Regions from separate parts of the Homo sapiens genome. Here region 1 is linked to region 2. A link means that fine-mapping ties the variant in region 2 to the expression of a gene that starts in the linked region. Tissue or cell type: atrial appendage. Region 2 holds a variant in brackets; the other region holds the start of a gene. All regions are shown on one strand. Distances are between the middles of the regions.

The links. PIP is the estimated chance that this variant, and not a neighbour inherited with it, causes the effect.
Region 1: HMGCL starts here. The variant in region 2 is fine-mapped to the expression of HMGCL in atrial appendage (GTEx, PIP above 0.99).

Annotation. Positions count from the first base shown.
Region 1 is chr1:23,824,011-23,826,692 of GRCh38, reverse strand. HMGCL (3-hydroxy-3-methylglutaryl-CoA lyase) reads left to right here and starts at 1,264. Exons shown (of 9, transcript NM_000191.3): 1 at 1,264-1,337. The coding sequence starts at 1,278. LOC105376861 (a long non-coding RNA gene) reads left to right here. Exons shown (of 3, transcript XR_947068.2): 2 at 510-609; 3 at 1,105-1,153. RefSeq lists an enhancer at 395-1,263.
Region 2 is chr1:23,926,674-23,929,355 of GRCh38, reverse strand. MIR378F (microRNA 378f) reads right to left here and starts at 286; the gene lies at 209-286. The variant C/T (reference allele first, on the strand shown) is at 1,259.

The DNA of each region.
Region 1 (2,682 bases), 100 kb after region 2:
AGTGGGGTACAACATACAGTTTGAAAACAGTGCTCTGGCCGGGGGCGGTGGCTCTCGCCTGTAATCCCAGCATTTTGGGAGGCCAAGGCGGGCGGATCACCTGAGGTCAGGAATTTGAGACCAGCCTGGCCAACACGGTGAAACCTCGTTTCTACTAAAAACACTAAAATTAGCCAGGCGTGGTGGTGCACACCTGTAATCCCAGCTACTCGGGAGACTGAGGCACGAGACTCTCTTGAACTCGGGAGGCGGAGGTTGCAGTGAGCCGAAATCGCGCCACTGCACTCCAACCTGGGTGACAGAGTGAGACTCCATCTCAAACAAACAAAACAAACCAACAAAACAAAAGAGAGAAAAACAGTGTTCTCAGCATTTTCTTTGCCTCAGGGCCATTGCGAATGCTACACCGTCTGGAAAGTTTTTCTTGTATCCTCTTCACCTGGATAGATTTTTTTTTTTTTCAGCCCTTCAGAAAGTACACCTAGATAAATCTTAATCATTTTTTTAAGGTATGAAATCTAAGGATGCCCCCTCTCTGGAGCTGCCTGCCTGTGTTTGAATCCTGAAGATCGTGATGCGTGAGTTAATCCGTGCTAAGAACTCGGAACAGTGAGTAGCAAATCGTTGCTTCTTATAGTGCAAGTTAGAAATGACACAACTGTTTGTGTAACTATTAATATGTGTCTCCTCACACCTCCCACACTCTAAACACAAGAAGCCACAGAATTTGGTTAATTTCTTTTCATGTTTTTGTTTGTTTGGTTTTGGGTTTTTTGTTTTGGACAGGCTCTCACTGTGTCGCCCAGGCTGGAGTGCAGTGGCACGATCTCCGCTCGCTGCAACCTCGCCTCCCGGGTTCAAACAATTCTCCTGCCTCAGCTTCCCAAGTAGCTGGGATTACAGGCGCCCACCACCACGCCCGGCTTTTTTTTTTTTTTTTTTTTTTTTTTTTTTTTTTTGGATTTTTTGGAGAGACGGGGGTTTCGCCATGTTAGCCAGGCTGGTCTCGAATTCCTGACCTCAGGTGATCTACCCGCCTCGGTCTCCCAAAGTGCTAGGATTACATGGTGTCCAGGCTGATTCTGTTCATCTTTATATTCCTAGCGTCTCACTTGGCCTGGCATGGAAGAGGCGCTCGGAATCAAAACGGAGAGAGGCTGGGGGTGGAGCCAGCTTCGGAAGTCACGGCGGAGGGGCGGGGGCGGGGCCGCGCCCACCAGACGAGCCATCGGTCACGCGGGGCCCAGCTGGACTGCCGCGGGGGATTCTGGGCCAAGATGGCAGCAATGAGGAAGGCGCTTCCGCGGCGACTGGTGGGCTTGGCGTCCCTCCGGGCTGTAAGTGCCCCGAGCCGCCGAGGCGGCGGCCCTGCAGGCACTCTGACTGTCAGGGTTGGGGGCTTGGCCCGTGGTGACTGCTCTCTTAGAGGCGAGGCCGGACAGCTCTCAGGCCAGAGTCGGGAGGGCGTTGGAGTCCTGGACCCTCCCTTTTCCCCTCAAATCCTTTGAAGGGGATGGGAAAACTGAGGTCCGGAGAGGTGGAGTGACTTGTCTGGGTCATGGAGACCTGGGACGCCATCCTAGGTGCCCTGATTCCCCGCCCAGGGCCCTTTCCGATGACCCTGGCCCCTTTCTCCCTCTAATTGAACTTCAGACCTCTCCAACTCTTCATTAGTGAAAATCAAGAACACGCTTCCATTTCCTTCGTCTCCATTTCCAACTGTTGTTGCTTTTAGAGATGCTTGGGGAACTATCCCAGCCTACCGAGCGGGACTTGCGTTGATTGGAGCCAAGCTGTGATTCCCTTGGAATTGCACTTTGATCCTGTTCGATCCTGATGTTTTCCCCTCTCCCATTCTCAGCGCAGAAAAAGTGTGGGAGACGTAGCTGTATGGAGCAGAAAAAATAAAAGCTGAAGCTAGGGTGTCCCAATAGTTCTGCCACTTTCTAGACTTAATGACATAGTTATTTACTTTCTCTAAACCTCAGCTCTTTCGTCTGTAAAACGGACAACATTCCCTTGGGGTTGTTTTGGAAATTAGAGAAAATGTAAGTAACACATCTGGCAGTGTTCTGGCTCCTAATAAGTGATCAGTCGGTGGTGGTATTTTTACCTTAGGGAGTTGAGAAGGAGTTATAACTGTATAGAGGGAAAAATACACTCCTGGCACTGGGTCCCTCTCAGAAAGCCACGTTAATATCTTTACTTGGCCATTCACCTGCACCACCTGCTCATGTGTAAAATGAAGATGGCAATTCCAACTTGGAAAGTTAAACGCAATAGTAGATATTAATAAGCTTTTAAGAAATATTTGGTGTAATGAGATGGCCCTCCATGGGGTTCCAAGCATAGGAACCAGTATTAGTATTAGGCCTAGATATGGGTTCAAGTCCAAGCTCTGTCACTTTCTAATTGTGATTTTTGGGTAACCTTTCTGAGGCTTAGTTTCTTCACCTACGGAGTTGGGATAATAATAGTCCCTGGCCTGTAGTTTAACACTGGGTTTAGTCAGTATTCGCTGTTGGTGTTGATGCAGGTACACCATACCTCAGGACACTGTGGCACAGTACTTGTGTGGTTAGGGGGACCCTCTCTGAGCAGAGCTTTACAGAGGAGGAACGGGATGTTTAACCAGGAGAAGACTGTGGACCGAACGAACGGTGGTAAAGAGGCAACAGTGGC
Region 2 (2,682 bases):
AGTAATAATATTCCTTATCTTGTTGGGTGGTTATGCAGATTAAGTGAAGTGGTCAATTTAAAGGGTTTAGTGGTCAGTTCATACAGAGCATTCAATGAATTAGCAGTTGTGACATCTCCATTTCCTAAATGAGAAGGCTGAGGTGTAACTGGTCCAACTGATTTGCCCAGAATTATTCAGCTAGTAAGCAGTAAGGGCAGGGCTTGAGCCCAAGACTTCTGGCTCCAAGTCCAGTGCTCGTTCTGTTGTTTAGCAGCCTGAAAACTATGGGAGTCCAGGACCTGACCCAGGGGCTGGGGAGGAAGAGCAGGAAGTGGGAGGAGTGGAGCTCCAGAGAGGTTTCCTAAGATAACATGGAATGGAGACTTTCTTTGAGCTGCTATATGTGAAAGCCTTCGTCTAAGGATTATTTTCAACAGCAACTCAATTTATTGGGTATCCTACTCAATGTATTAGTGTAATTTCTTTCTTTACATTGAATGTTCAACACCTTTTTTTTTTTTTTTTTGAGATGGAGTCTCACTGTGTCACCTAGGTTGGTGTGCAGTGGCGTGATCTCGGCTCACTGCAACCTCTGTCTTTCGAGTTCAAGCGATTCTCCAGCCTCAGCTTCCTGAGTAGCTGGGATTACAGGTGCACGCCACCCCACGCCCAGCTAATTTTTGTATTTTTAGTAGAGACATGGTTTCGCCATGTTGGCCAGGCTGGTCTCAATCTCCTGACCTCACGTGATCCACCTGCCTGGCCTCCCTGTTGGGATTACAGGTGTGAGCCACTGTGCCCAGCTGAATGTTCAATTTCTTTTGATTGATCCCTCTTCTGTGTTCCCAAACACACTGTACAAATTCTGCTATTGAAGAGTAATTGCCCCAAAATTTAGTGGCTTAAAGCAACAAGAATCATTTCATCATCTTTCAAGGTTTCAGAGGGTCAGGAATTCAGAAAGGGATTGCCTGTGTGGTCTGACTTGGGGTCTCTCATGTGGTTGCTGGTGGTGAATGGTGAACGGAGCTGGATGGGCATAGCTCTGCCTTCATTTACTCTCAGAGCGGGCCAGGCGCAGTGGCTCACGCCTGTAATCCCAGCACTCTGGGAGGCCGAGGCGGGCAGATCACGAGGTCAGGAGATCAAGACCATCCTGGCTAACACGGTGAAACCCCGTCTCTACTGAAAATACAAAAAACTTAGCCGGGCGTGGGTGGCGCGCGTCTGTAGTCCCAGCTACTCGGGAGGCTGAGGCAGGAGAATGGCGTGAACC[C/T]GGGAGGCGGAGCTTGCAGTGAGCCCAGATCACGCCACTGCGCTCCAGCCTGGGCAACAGAGTGAGACTCCTTCTCAAAAAAAAAAAAAAAAAATTATCACTCTGACATACTCTACTGGTTGAAATGGTCTCAAACGTCTTCTCAGGTTATCTTTGGAAAATACAACCCACCAGGTATGCTTTTGTGTCTACCTTTCCTGCCAGAACACTCATTCATGCAGTCACTCAGGTACTCATTTGTTCCCTCATCCAACATTTGTTGAGTACCTGTTGCTCTCCAAACACTAAGGCAGGCCCCTTATATAGATTATTTCATCTAATATTCAGGTCAACCCTTTGAAGTAAATGCATAATCCCCGTATTTAACACATGAGGAAGCTAAGGTTCAGAATGGTGCAGTGACTTGCCCAAAGTCATGTGAATGAGTCGAGAACCCATGATTTGAACCCATAACTATCCATTCCAGAGCCTATGCCCGTTCCTTAACCAGCCTGCCCTCCCAGGATCAGCATAACCTGGCTGCCTTCAAGGCTTTTGAGTTTGTACCTTGGCTAAGCTCTGTGCTCTTCATGCCCCCAGGACTGGTCAGAGGGGCTGGGGAAAGGAACGAGGGAAACACTGTCTGGGGCCAGTGGGAAGGAACCCCAAGTCCTGTGCCAGCTATGGAACTTCCACTTGTGGTCCCAGGGGTTCTGGCCACACAGTGCAGGGTTGGGATTCATGCCCTTATTGAGGAGACAACACCTATTCACACATGACCAACAGGGGTTATTTTGGTGCCAACTCCAGTCAGCTGAGTGTCAGCATGGAGTGCTGAGTTGAGAAAGATCATGAGCAGAATCTGGGCTGGGCAGGATTAAGGGTCTTGATCCATTAGTTATGTCTGCCACTGATACATAACCAGGTATGTTGGCACATGGGCCTTGCATCCCAATCTTACAAAACTACATCTCTTTTCATATGGGACAATACTAAGAAGCAAGCACCACAAGGGCAAGGATTTTGTCTGTTTTCATCCCCGCTATATCCCCAGTGCCTAGAACAGTGTCCTTCAGGGATTAGGATCTCAGTGAATATTTGTTGCATGAATGAGACAATTATGGTTTAGTGGTTAAATGGATTGACTCCAAGCCTGTCCCAATTCTAGGTTTGAATTCCATCTGTGCCACTTGATGGCTGGATAATATTGGATAAGTTGCTTTGTTTAACTTTTCTGAGACTCACCTACTTCATTCGTCTATTCATTTATTCATTCAACAAATATTAGTTGAGCACCTAATGGATGTTGAACACCTAATTTTGGGGATGTACCAAACACTGTTCTAGACACAGGGGACGTAGAAGTGACCAAAATAGATATAGATCCCTGCTGTTATGAAGTTTATATTTTAGGAAGGAGGAACAGAAAAATGAACAAATGAAAT